Homo sapiens: one gene and its partners. The protein of the gene in region 3 interacts with the protein of the main gene of each other region in a pairwise test. Each region holds a gene or a part of one and is shown on either strand. Other genes may lie near its edges.

The links. Proteins that work in one complex are often made in the same cells at the same time.
Region 1: the proteins of HTT (region 3) and WDR91 interact in binary tests that used the Homo sapiens proteins (3 or more experiments, as listed by UniProt).
Region 2: the proteins of HTT (region 3) and MSX2 interact in binary tests that used the Homo sapiens proteins (3 or more experiments, as listed by UniProt).
Region 4: the proteins of HTT (region 3) and KLHL20 interact in binary tests that used the Homo sapiens proteins (3 or more experiments, as listed by UniProt).

What each region holds. Positions count from the first base shown.
Region 1 is NC_000007.14:135,198,027-135,201,526, forward strand, and holds part of WDR91 (WD repeat-containing protein 91), read right to left. Parts: intron 126-3,500; coding exon 1-125.
Region 2 is NC_000005.10:174,723,172-174,727,381, reverse strand, and holds the start of MSX2 (homeobox protein MSX-2), read right to left. Parts: upstream 2,801-4,210; 5' UTR 2,723-2,800; coding exon 2,344-2,722; coding exon of another isoform or gene 2,318-2,343; exon of another isoform or gene 2,315-2,317; intron 1-2,314. UniProt on the Homo sapiens protein: Acts as a transcriptional regulator in bone development. Represses the ALPL promoter activity and antagonizes the stimulatory effect of DLX5 on ALPL expression during osteoblast differentiation. Probable morphogenetic role.
Region 3 is NC_000004.12:3,241,569-3,244,457, reverse strand, and holds the end of HTT (huntingtin), read right to left. Parts: 3' UTR 501-2,889; downstream 1-500.
Region 4 is NC_000001.11:173,721,481-173,724,980, reverse strand, and holds part of KLHL20 (kelch-like protein 20), read right to left. Parts: intron 1-3,500. UniProt on the Homo sapiens protein: Substrate-specific adapter of a BCR (BTB-CUL3-RBX1) E3 ubiquitin-protein ligase complex involved in interferon response and anterograde Golgi to endosome transport.

The DNA.
Region 1 (3,500 bases), on a different chromosome or scaffold from region 3:
TCCTTGCCATGGTCCTGCAGGCGCCGCTGCCGGTGCTGTGACCAACCGGACTCCCCAGTGGCCAGCCCGCTGAGGAGGCTCTTCCCATCCTTGGCTCCGGACGTCGGGTCCTTTCCCTTGGTGCCCTAGAGGAAAAGAAGCTGGCTGTGAAGTCTCTTCCCATCTGCCCAGGCCATGATAAGCATGCCAGGAGTGGTCAGCCCTGGGCGGGGGGGCGTGGTGGGTTGGGGGCAGGTGGTTAAAATGGTGTTGGCTCAGCTATGTAGGTGAGGTCATAGTCAGCCCCTGCTATGACCTCCTCCTTTCTGTCCTCTACCCGTTAAGAGGACAGGTCACCTGCAATCCTCATCCTGCGGTATCTCTCATCTGGAGGAAGATGTCATCTTGATCTAATCGGAACAATTTAGTCTAGTTGAGGGGAAGGAGCCAGCACTTACTAAGTGATGACTAAGGCAGGCCGGGGCCTACGCTTGGTGTTATACACATTTACAAGCAACAATATGTTTGGGCAATCTAAAAATTATTTATGCAACAAGCAATCACCTCTGGAGGGAAAAGGAAAAGGAACACAGTACCCTCTCTTGTTTTGGGCCAAGTGTGGACTAAACCAGCTAATATTAACAAATACTGAGGTGTTTGAAAATGATTACTAGAAAACCAGAAATTTTTAACAGAAATTGTTGAAAACCCAAGGAATGTTAAGAAAGATAAATCGGACAGGAAATAAACCGGTATTTTCTGGCTCCTTTTCATAACAACAGTGATAGGGTCAGCTAAGTTATAGCAAGAGGGGATGAATTTGATCATCCCCACCCCACCTGTATAGAGAGAAGAAGTCTCCATTCTTAATCTAGAAACTCTTAAAAGGAGCTGCCACCCCCACATCTTTCCAGATTGCTGGGCAGGGCTCTCTTTTTCCAGCTTTTTACCCACAAATTGTGATGGCCAAACACCCTCACCCTCATTTTTTACACTCTTAGCAAAGAGATATGAATGCAAACAGCTACTCAGGTTTGAGACCAATCTTCTCAAGAAACCATTTCTACACAAGCCCTAAGTGAAGAGAAGAAACTCAACCAAAGTCTACCTGCTGCTTTCCAGTTCTTCTACTTGTTATTTTTTATGTCAACAGTAAATAATTTAAAATGATTAACATGGATTCCTTGGAATCCTGCAGCCATGTGAACAGTTAAAAGAAAATTTTAAAGGACTATTAGCTTACCTGGAACCAAACCATGACTAACCTGCAGGGTATTTACTATTTTTGGCCTGTTTATAAACTTCAAGTACTTCCGTGAACAAAGAAAGGATGGTAAACCTGTCTCAATCAGCCACAAACACATTTAATTCCAAGTATCAGAATTGTGTCAATAACAATTGTGTATGGGTCCTGGGAGGACAAAAGCCACGGAGAGGTAATGTCCACTCCTCAGAGTTTCAGAGAGATGGAGTGGGGAGGTGGCCTGTTGGAGTTGGCTGTCAAGGCTAAGATCTGGGGAGGTGGTAGGCAGTTGTGTCGTGTCCTGTTTCAAGACAAGGCTCTGAAACCCCCGTAAGAAGAAATCACTGAAAATGCAAACACTGAGCAGCCACATCACAGTCCAGGAGGTGCCGCTTCCACATTTTGTGCTGCTACATGTATGCCGTGCTCTACATGGGTCACAGGGGGATTCTGCCTTGGAAGCAAAGGTGGGAACTGTTACAGAGGGAGACAGGCACTTTATGGGCCCCTTCCTGCCTTATTCAGCCCCTCCACTGGATAATGGTGTCTTTTCCTTTTTCAGCAACAGTAAAGAGTGCTCAATCAATTGGTGAATATTGATGGAAGGAGGAGGCTTCGAATTCCTCTGGCTTATTTGAAAGCCACTTGTAACACTTCCCCAGCAGGAGCAAACAATAAAACACTGAGAAGTACAAAGGTAATACTTCCCTCACAAGTCAAGATAGCAAGGAAGGCATCTGGTACAGAGAAGAACTACCTTTACAATGATAGGGCAGTTTACGCCAAGACAGTGATGGACCTAAGCATGACCTATCAGATTTTGCTTTAAAGAAGAGGATAGGTTCTCCTTTCTCCTTAAATCTATGTTAATCACTGAATAACAAAAGATAATAATATATTAAAAGCTGGTGAATGCGGTTGTCCACAAAACTTTTTAATAAGTAGGTGAAGGCCAATTTGTGTCTAGCCACAAATGTACAAAACAAGTGAATGCTTACTGGCAACTGTTAATTTTTTAGAAATAAAAGGCTAAAAAATAAAAACAAAGGAAAAAGGGGTAAAGTCACAATGCTATGTAAGTAATTACCTTCAAACAAATCCATAAAACTCTGGCCAAGCACTTGTGTATGGGTAAAGAGCTGGAGAGAGTGAAAGATGCCGGCAGAACTGTGTACTCTCTAGACAATGACACTTGCACACAGAGAAGCTTGCACCCTTCTGGAAGCTTCTTCTACTGTGACCCTACCTTACACATCTTTGTAACCTTAGCACCCAGCACCACGCCTCGCATAAGCTGGGCACTCATTCATGACTGGCTAAATAACAAATGGATGGACTGATGGACAGATGAAATAACTGTTCATTGAAAGTTTTATTTCATTTTAAGTGCAACCCTCATAATAGTCTTTAACTGCTGGCTTCAAATAACAGAATATCCCAATAGTCTAAAGTATATTCTATCATAATCTACCTGACTGCTACAGTTCAGGAGAGACACGGTAACCTCTGTCTTATCATTTGACCTTCTCACTCTGGAGACAGACATAAGTTGATACCCATTAATTTCCGGTGGAATGAGTAGGTCATGAGGGATTCCAGAGCCTCACAGAGCTTACCAGGATGGCAGCCATCCAAATGGAGCAGCAAACAACTTCCAGTAATTTGGTCTCACCTGAAGCTAAACAAAGCTACCCAGAAAACACGCCCTCATAACACAGAAATCCCAGAATGAAAGACAGGCTTTCTCCTTACTGCCAAGATCCTTGGGGAAAACCTTCAGGGCAGTGGTTGTGACCACTTACTTCTCAGTAACTGGGAGGTAATTTGACACTAATAACAGTCACAAGCACAGAAGTTTGTGGATGCTTTGGTGCCTTACATTACAGCCGATTAAAAGTTATCTCTATAATGAGGTAATTTCCATGGCTCACCAAGTGGGTGTGAAAGGAGCAGAATTCTTGCTGGTGGGAAGGATGGAGTACAAACTACAGGCTGTGTGAGCCAAGCAGCAGCCCAGGCAAGCCTGCTATGGATGTGCCCTCCCGGCTATTGTAATTAGAGATCCTAGAAGGGCTTGGGAAGTGTGGTTTCGCAGTTATTTCCACTAAAAAAAAAAAAAAAAAAAAAATTGCCTCCAGACTCATATTGAAAGCCTGGAGAGTATCTGCCAGGCTTTCAATACAAAAGCAATCTATTTTGCATCTGTTTTGCCATCTATTTTACAGGAATAATGCTATGAACGTTTCAGTAATAATGACAACAGGTACAGCAACCAATT
Region 2 (4,210 bases), on a different chromosome or scaffold from region 3:
AAATCCAGGTGACCGGGATCGCACATGTGTATCAAAACCATGAAGCTATGAGGCTTCCTCCCAATGCAACACTCCCCATCCCTCCACCCCCACCTAATTTTAAACCAGCCAGAGGAAGGATGCGATTATATAAGGCAAAACAGCGTTTATCCTACTTCCTCCAAATAACAAAATCAGGCCCGGGCGGGTAGCTCCCTCTCGCCCCAGGCTCCGTCGCCTGGCATTCTCAGGACCCACTACTCTGACCACAGGGTTCCCGCTGCCACCTCCAGGCCCAAAGCACCAACAATTCTTCATGGTGTTTTTTTTTTGTTTTTTTGTTTTTTTTTACTTTAAGTTCCGGGATACATGTGCAGAATGTGCAGGTTATAAACTCGGTTCTCAGAATTTCTGGTTCTTTTCATGGGAAGGTCACAGCCTGGGCCCGAGGTTGCCTTACCCAGAGCAGGGAAGCTTGAGCACAGGGCAGAGATGTTTAGAGGGGTAGTAGTCATTGCCTTTCCAGACCCACAGGCCTAAAGGATGGCAGGATTCCTAACCTCTGGACACTACTCCATTTAAGGCCTGTATCATTGGCTGGGCATAGGCGTAGGCTATGTACTCAATATTTGTTAAACAAATTAAGTCTTTTAATTTTCTGAGCCTCTACCTCACTGTCGATAAAGTGGGTAAGTAACACTAATCCCTCAATGTGGTCCACAGTACTAAAATTTTAAGAGTACCCAGAGCCCTGTCTGTCTGCCACCTGGTAGGTGATCATTAAATGGTCCCCAGCTTTTTTTTTTTTTTTTTTTTGGTCAGGCCCAAACTGCCGATTCCTCTCTGAACTTTGCTGAAATGTCCTCATCTGTTAAGAGGCCGGCTGCTGCCCTACAGAGGAGATAAGATAATACGGTGAAAAGTGCTATAAAGCACTATCCAAACTTGAGTTTAAATTCTTTGAGTCCCTTAATCTCCTCGCCCTTTGAATCTTTCAGAGTTTCTAACAGGGTGGAGAGAGACTGCCAGAGGGGACAGCCACTGACGCCTGGGTATATGGCCTTGTTTTGTTAACAAAATACAGTGCGTCTAGTCTTGAGGGCTGAATGATGTAAATAGTGAAAGGATCTCTCTCAGCTTTGGAGAAAGTCCCTCCACAGCCCCCACCCTCACCTTTCCTACAGGTAGGGGATGGCGTGGTGGGAAATTAGGGGGTAGAGAAACCATAAAAGCCAAGAGATAAAAGTAAAAGAGGCTGTAAAGGATGACGTCTCCAAATTGTAAAAGGACTCAGGGACCAAAAATGGATGCTGAAGCGGAGAATTCTCTGCAGCCTCAATTCTCAAGTGGGGTGCAGGTGCGGATCTCTACCTAGTCTCTCTGGGGAGAGGACGCAAAAGTGGTCAGGGCATATCAAACAGAGGAGCAGGGCGTGGGCAACAGGTGCCCCTGGCCAATCAGTGGTTGTTGGTAACCTGGGACAAGCAAAGGCCGTCTTCTTTAAAAGCCTCAGCGTCCACGTCTGAAAAATAGGGTAGTCACAAGTCCAGTGTCTACACTTGGGGGTTCTAGTGAGGATCTCGATCTGGTGAGCTAGTGAACATCACTCTGCAAACTCTCAAGCCCTGCTGGAATGCGGTTAATTATTACTGTGAGCCAAGAAGAGCCCGTGCGCTTCTGGCCCCAGCCCGCTCCCGGCGAAGCTCAGAACCTTGCCGGGGAGGTGCTGGCTGCGGAGACCACAGAGAGACATTTCCTCCCCGCACCAGACTCTGATGCCACCATCCCTGGTGCCACCATCCCTTCGTGGGATCCGGCTTCGACACCCGCGGGACTCACGAAAGAAAATGGTTTCTCCTCAATGTCTGGCTAAGCCCAGTTAGCTCATCTTTAAAATGGGGGCACAACTCTCAGGGTTGAGTTTTGAACCTGTCTCGTTCCTGGTACATCCAAGTGCTCACTGAACATGGATCCAACTCCTTCACTCCCCAGGCAGAGACTCCGGGGAACAGTGAAACAAAAACAAGCCAAGTGGCCAGAGCGCAGGGCCGAGGGCTGTAGAAACGGACCACCGAGCGACCCCGTAAACCCAGCTGGGGTTCGCTCTTGAAAAAACAATCTGTATGTCGAGGGAGTCTCAGACACACACAGCGCGGTTATTACCCAGAGGGTGTCTTGGATGCGGACGGCGCACTGGGCGCGCCGAACGCCCCGGGCACCCAGGAGTCCAGAGGCCCTGGGCTTGCTTTCCCGGGAGTGTAGCGCACGCAGAAGGGTCTCGGTACCCTCAGCCCTGGAACACCCGCCCCCCGCTCCCTCCAGTACCCCGCGCTACCTCCTACTCCTGCCCCGGCGCGCACTCACTTGGCGGCGGCGAATATCGGCCGGGTTCCTGCATCCACGCCGCTCCATCTTCTGAATTTTCCGACTTGACCGAGGCGGTCTCGAAGGGCTTCACCAGCGGCCCGGGGCTGTGCGCTTCCCGAGCGCCGTGCCCCGACAGCAGCAGTGGCCGCAGGGTGGCCCCGGCCGAGGCGCTTTCGGCCGGCAGCGGGGACGCCTCCTTGGGCGGCTTCTTGTCGGACATGAGCGCCTCCACGCTGAAGGGCAGGCTGGAGACCTTGACGCGGCGCTCCTCCGCGGCCCCCTCGGCGCCCCCAGGCCCCGGGCCTGGTCCGGCCACCACTGCTGGGCCCTCCTCGTCGGGCGAAAACAAGTCATTGCCTTTGGACGGAGAAGCCATGACTTCTCTGCCCTACGTAGCTCCCGACGCGCGACTCCGCTGGCAACCCGGCAGCGGCGACTCAAACTTTTTTGCTGCGGAGACGGGAGGGGCGCGCTGGGAGCTGAGCCTTTCCTCCGAGGGGAAGTGGGAGACGCGCGCCGCCAATCCGCGCCGGGCCTGGCGCTGACGCCAGAGACGCTCGCCCCTGATTGGCTCTTCCCGAAGGGGCTGCCCCCCCTCCTTTTTTTTTTTTTTTTTTTTTTTCCTGTTTGAAATAAATTAGGAGTTAATTACAGGAGCAGTCAGCAGAGTTGTTATTAGGCGATCCCTGAAGGGTTATAATCACGCCGAAACTGAAAAGCCCGAGACCTAATTAAGAGCGATTATTTAAAGCGGAAGTTCGCCGAGTCCCATTTCTTCTCTCTTTTGACCCTTCTTTAAAAGGGACCCTGCGCCCATCCCACTCTCCCTCTACCGCCAGAATAAGTTCAAGATTCGCAAACAGCATTGCAGAAACATTTACGAAGCCCCTACTATGCGTCAAAATTGGCTTACTTTACAGTTCCAGAAAGTCGGTGCTGAAACTCACAGGCCAGTATCCCTGTGAAAGAAATGTATGCACTTAGAAGAGTAACTCGCCACTAGCCAGCGCTCAAAAGCGCCCACTGTTATTATTACAACTCTTTCCCCTGGAAAAGAGGGGCCGGAAGGAGCCCGAGAAGTGGTCAGGAGTGCCTCTCTCCCAAATGGTTCGGAGTGAAGAATTTAAATCAGTTGTCCCCATCTCTCTCACTAGAAAGCAAATCCAGCGCACTTTTAGAAAGTTGAAATCTCTGTACTTGTCTCCTGAACCTCCTTTCTGAGCGCGATCCGGATCCGACCTTTTTCTCAAGACAGTGCAAGTGTGCATTCATGAGTTTGTTTGAGCCTGTGTTTGTCGTGCGTGTTTGAATGCCAGTGTTTGCCTCGGAGGGTAATGGGGGTGGGGGGGAGGAGGAAAAGTCGCCAATATCTAGTGCCTCCCTCTCGTTTGCAAGTCTCAGAAATACCGGCTTCCAAGTTTGCACACCCCAGGCCTACATATCATTTTGGGAAGCACATTTTTATTCATGGCACCTGGTTTTTTATAAAAACATAGATGTCTCCACCCCACCCCAAATTATACCCTCGGTAATTCCTTTCCAAAGCCTCAGTGATGACTGTCTCAGCCTGGGGAAGGGGAGAGCGAGCTTCGAGGATTAGAGGCCTCGGATCTCTCCGCTGGTCCTCAAAATGCCTGACCTAGAAGGTTAGCTTCAAAAGACTTTTTTCAGGCTGCGGCTGTCTTTTCCTATATCTGAACGATTATCCTGCGACTGACGAGGTAAATAGGAAGTCACCCAGTTCAGGACCTCGCCTACAGCAGATGCTTGCTAAACATTCCCTAGAGCATTGGAAGGGAGAGACATTGTTTTTAATTATTTAAATGACCAAGGCTTGGAGGCTACCTCCCAGTTCAGGAGTATT
Region 3 (2,889 bases):
CTGGGAGCAGCTGGGCCAGGGACGCAGGTGTCAATGGCCAAGGAGGTGGAAGGGTGGTGGGCCCTGTGAGAACACAGCTCTAGTCTCTGTGCTGGGCCTGATGACCTGCTTCAGTGCCATGGGCCAAGTCCTGAGGCTTGTGTATGTCATATAAGCTTATGATGTCACTTGACCATGAAGGCTCCAGCAGCTCCAGCAGCTCCCACAGCTCCCATCTGCAGGGCAGGAAGACCACCTGTACTGTGGTTTGGGAAGGCCCTTGCAGAAGCACCCAGCCAGGCCCATGCCCTGGGGCCACTTCCTCATCCCTGGCTACAGAAAACACGGGGCCTGTCCCTGCTGGCAGCTGCCTGGGGGACCCTCCATAATGCCAGATGTTAGCTGGTGGGACAGTTTCTGCCCCTGCTGGAGAAGCACTTAGGAGACTGCTTCCTAAGACTCCAGCTCAGCAAGGTCTAGGTTCTCATGAAGCAAAGCAAGCCTCACACAGCAACAACTGATGGTTTCCATTTTTTTCCTTTAATTTGGATGTACAATGTTTGCAGCAGTTAAAAAATTAAATATACATCTCTCGTCAGTCCTTCCCTTTGCTCTCAGAAGCATTCAGGTCTGGGTGGGGCTCCGGGACTCGCCCATCACAGCCCTGCTGGCTCCAGGGGAGCTCAAGCTCAGCTGACAGTCCCTCTGACCACGGTGCAAAGCAGTGAGACCTGGACAAGGAGGCCCCACTTGGGTCAGAGCCCACCCTCCGTAGGCAGGTCCACGTTGGCCACGATCCTCCAAGGCTGGCAGTTACCACCCAGATTGCAGCGGGAGACTCTGCTCTTAGAAACAACTGAGGGGAAGGCGTTCCTTTGACTGCACCAGAGCGTGACAGGCACATGGGGGAAGAGCGGCCCCTGAACCTTCCAGGTTGCCTTCAGTTGTCATGCGGCATTCTGAGCAGCTCCCTCCTTCCCAGGAGGCCCAGGCCCGGCAAGCGAGTGTCCTCGTCTGAGCCATCCTGAGCTCTCCAAGGTCCCTCAGCAGCTCTCAAGATCTTCCTTCTTCTCACTCCTACACGTGACCCCTCTGGAGGACAGCTCCAAGTCTACCCTGGCCAGCAGCTGTGGTCCCGGGTCCTCCCCGCAGAGGGAGGAAGCGGGGGAGGGACAAAGCCCGATGAGGATGTCTGCTGGGAAGGATGCTCACAGGTAGCAAGAGAAGCCTGACTCCACCCACCAGACACACAGAACTAACCTCACTCCACCCCGCAACGGGAGGAAGTTCCACCTGCCAGGCGGCCACACACCGAGTTATTGCTGTCTACTATCCGTCCCGAGCTCCACGTGGGGCTCATCTCAGCTCCAAGAGGAGGAGCTGTTCATTGGCTCCGAGGGCTCTGAAATGACCCCCTCCATGAAGATGGGGGCGAGGGGTGTCCTTTAGGGCACAGGGCCTTCTCAGATGCTACATTCTGGGTGTCTGGAGGGGGTTCAGCTTCACATTTTCCCCTTGAAAGGACACATGCGCTGGCAGAAATGAGGGTGGACAGTAACAAAGAGCACTTGGCAGCTGGAAACATCACCTACATAGACTCAGCTGGGCCCGCAGCGGAAGGGAGGCACATTTTGGGAAAGAAACACGCTTCAGTGCATTGCCAAACAATTCTACCCTGGTTTCATTAAAATCTTTCCCGATATTACCAGCAGGAAAACAAAAGCAATCTCCCCACAGCCCACCCCCAAAACTTGACAACCAAATTAATCACATTTGCAACAAAATTTGGATAATACGATGGGTGCTTGCCACAGATTTTTAGGAACATGATAAAGTCTTCCTCCCTTCTGCAGAGAGCTGATATGGAGACCATCTTCGCCAGTGGGATCCTAGTGGGCAATGAATGAGCCCTGCCCTGACCACGTCCCACGCCTGGATGTCCGTCACGCGGCTAACTTGACCTGGCGGGTCTAAGGAAAGTCAACTTCCAGGAAGAACCGACACGGGCACTCTTAGAGGCCATGCATCTCCGTCTTGAGAGGTGTGTGTGTAAAATTATAGATGTGTCTATATGCACATGCATGGATACTTTATGTATATGCGTGGGTGAAGTCATTTTTACTAATGAGCTCATATTCATCTCCGGAGCACACAGGCAGGTCTTTGGGGGTGGGGGACACCTACTGCCAGAGCGGGGTGTTCTGAGCCCCTTGCTAAGGACTGGTTTAGATCACGTCGTAAACAAGAGGAAGACAAACTCTATGTTGAGCCCAGCGATATGCATTCCAAGGGAATGGCTCTGTTTTACATTCACAGTGTTATTTCTTACAAATGTAAACATCTAGCCAGGAACAACATCTGGCCTGTGATACTGCTGTCTCAGAGCTGCTGACATAACCTGCGGGGGAGGCGGGAGGCGGGTGGGGAGCAGCCAACAGTTCTGAGAACTTTCCCCTCGTTCCCAAACCTTCTAGCGGGCTTTCCAGGAAAAAGCTAGGATGAGAAACAGGAGCCCCCAACCAATACGGAATGGTGATTTTCTTACGTGTTATAATTCAGTAGCTTCCCTTAAGGGCCTCCTCAAACATCGGACCCCTTTCTACCGCTCCTGCTGCCCCGCCACGAGGACGAGGTGGTCCTGGCTGGGGGAGGCCTCTGTTGGGAGCTGGTGGGAAAAGCCTCATACAGGCCTGGCAGAGGCTGCTCAGAGGAGGGGCTCCCTTTCAGCTCCCCCTCACGTATGTGGGCAGCATACAAGTCCACATCTCAGCTGCTCCCCAGCTGCCACATAGGAGAGGGACAGGTGGAAGCTTGGGGGTCTCAAGGCAGCACCTGCACAGAGTTCCAACATTTCCTCCACTTACCACATTCAATACCCAAAACATCGACGGGCATGACCAAACCAAGCCA
Region 4 (3,500 bases), on a different chromosome or scaffold from region 3:
GAATGAGCATAACAAAGTGAACTTATATCATCACTTTTCTAGCTGAAATTAACGGGGATGGTCTAAGAAATTTTCAGAATTACCTTTAAGTACTTATAAAATACCTAAAATACTTTTATTATGTTTAAAAAGTCATTCCAGATAATATATAAGATACAAATTTGTATCTTTTCTTTGCGACAGGGTCTTGCTCTGTCACCCAGGCTGGAATACAGCGGTTTGATCACGGCTTACTACAGCCTCGACCTCCTAGGCTCAACTGATCCTCCCACCTCAGCCCCCTAAGTAGCTGGGACTACAGGTGTGAGTCACCATGCCTGGCTTGAAAATTTGTATCTTATATTCATATTTCATATGTAGAAATTCAGGTGCTAAATTACTAGGTAAAAGTCACAAATTACTGACAAATAATTAGAAATAAGATATTTGGATTTTTGTATGATCACATTATATAAACATGCAGAGAAAAGACAATCTATGCCTCTTAATTAAAATAATTATTCTTTTAACAAATATTTACTAATTGCTTTTAATGTACACAAAGCATTTTGCTATAGACTGTGGAAAATTCTAAGTAATATAAAGAAGCAATCTCTAGAGGAGGAGATACATGAATAACTAGTAAGAGGGCAACCAGGACAAAAGATGTGGTTCAAACATAAGAATTTTCGGAGGAGGCTGAGCCTAGTGGCTCATGCCTGTAATCCCAGTACTTTGGGAGGTTGAGGCGGGGGGATCCCTTAAGCCCAGGAGTTTGCCATGCCTAGGCAACATAGTGAGGCCCCATCTCTAAAAAAAAAAAAAAAAATCCCCAAAACATATATATCATGTATGTGTATGTGTATATATATATAAAAGAATTTTTGGAGGTGATACATATGTTTAGAACCTTGATTGCGGTGATATCATGGGTATATACATATGCCCAAACTCATCAAAATGTATACATAAAATATGTACCTCAATTATACCTCAATAAAGCTTAAAAGTCATTCAGAAAGGCAAAATCTATGAAGTATATGTTTAACATCATTCAGAAAGATTCTGGATCTCACAGGTATAGCCTATCAGGTTACTACAAAGGTTGTTGTTGTAAAGTAGGAATATTACACTGGGTTTTCCCAGAGCTTAAGTGAAATATCTCACATCCATGCTCCAGATCGTTATATTTCTGTTTCTGATTCTAAACTCATTAAGCAGTCCTCTGATGGAAAATTCTTCCAAAAGTACCATGCTACTTAAAAGGGGGATGACTCAAGCATTCTGATCACTGAGTTTTAGGTCAGCCTCATGTGAGTCTCTCTCAGATGCTAATTATCTACAACTACTGAGAGAGTCTAATATCTAGCCTGCAAAGGACAGCATCCCTATCAGTCTGCTACTTCCAAAGCTGTAGCACTGACGGGAACTACAGTATAATAAAACACTAAAGTGTAAAAGGAGTCTCCTGAGAAGGACAGAAAAATCTATAAGGACATTCTAGGGAGAAGAAATTGCATGTGCATTGCAAAGATATAGCACAAAAATAAAAAACATGGTTCTTCTTTTCTCCAACAACAACCAATTTTTCCAAAACACTTATACATCTGGTAAAAACATCACTGTTTACGCTTGGCAATTTTAAAGACTAAAACATAAAGCTGAGCAGTTAAAGAATAATTTTTACCATCCATATAAACAATCAAGAATGCTTTTAACCACAGAGCTAAAATGGTGCCTTGTACACAGTAGATGCTGAAAGAATAAATCACATGATTAACAGTGGTACAATCAAGCTTCTTTTTTAAAAAAGTAACAATTAAAGACAGAAGACCAAAAATTCCTGGAATACTGACACTGCATGCTGAAAGTAAAGTGTTATTGTCACAACCTTAGTTACATACATAAAGATGCTACTGTTGAACTGAGATATAAACAATTTTTTATTTCACCTAAGTACAATGTGGGTAAACTAAGCTAATGTCTCCGTTTTTCTTTTAAACATACCATAGTGCCAGGCGCGGTGGCTCACACCTGTAATCCCAGCACTTTGGGAGGCAGAGGTGGCTGGATCACCTGAGGTCAGAAGTTTGAGACCAGCCTGGCCAACATGGTGAGGCTCCATCTCTACTAAAAATACAAAAATTAGCTGGATGTGGTGGCGCATGCCTGTAATCCCAGCTACTTGGGAGGCTGAGGCAGGAGAATTGCTTGAACCTGGGAGGCAGAGGTTGCGGTGAACCAAGATTGTGCCACTGCACTACTCCAGCCTGGGAAACAAAAGCGAAACTCTATGTCAAAAAAAAAAAAAAAATTACCATAGCAAAAAAAAATAATGCTCTTATTACTGCATCAGTATAGTAGAATCTTTTTTTCTTTTTTTTAGAAATAAGGTATTGCTCTGTCACTGAGGATGAAGTGCAGTGGTATGATCACAGCTCACTGCAGCCTCAAACTCCTGGTTGAAGCGATCCTCTCACCTCAGCCTCCTGAGGAGGCTCTCAGGTGCATGCTACCACGCCTGGCTTAATTTTAATTTTTTGGTAGAGACAAAGACTCTCTCTGTTTCCCAGGCTGGTCTAGAACTCCTGGCCTCAAGTGATCCTCCTGCCTCAGCCTCCCAAAGTGCTGGGATCACAAGTGTAGGCCACTGTGCCCCCAGCCATTGGTGTCCATCCATATAATTTTCACTTCAGGAAATATCATTCATCTTTTGCCTTTTTTCCTCAACCATTTAAGAATGTAAAAGCTAGCTGGGCATGGTGGCTCACAGCTGTAATCCCAGCACTTTGGCAGGTTGAGGCAGGAGGATCGTTTGAGCTCAGGAGTTTGAGACCAGCTTGGGCAACAAAATGAGATTCCATCTCTACGAAAAAATTTAAAAATTATCCAGGTGTGGTGACATGTGTGACAAGTGCTTCTTGAAAAGCTTGCAGAACCACAAGCCAAGATAAACTTCTTTTCTTTATAAATTACCAAGTCTCAGGTACTTCTTTATTGCAATGCAAAATGGACTAATACGCTATCTAAATGAACATTTCACCTTTCCTACTTCAAAAATTTTGTTTTACTTTGAAAATTAACAACTTGACCTTAAAAAAGATTCAGTTGCACTGACCCTCATTTATAGTCCTAAATATACTTGAATAGAGACAGCTGGAGATTTGAGTGTATAAACCCTCAAAACAGAAATAACATCTCAAAGTGTCACTTCTACTTAGTAGAAGGGGTCCCAATAGGCACTATATTCCACACCTGATTCCACACCAGAAGGCCAAGCTATTAACCTCTTTATTTGAAACTTGGTTGTGAATGTTTTAGTCCCAAGACATCTCATCACGGCTTATTGGATAAAATGAGCATAAGCCTTGGGTGCCTTGGTCCAGTGATCGAGACCAAGATGGAGCAGGAAGGGTAAATCCTCATGCAAGCATGCTAGTTTCCCTTTATATCAGGATAGCAAAAGCCTTCCTAGAATACCCCTCAACAACTACTGCTGACATCTCATTGGTAGCACTGTG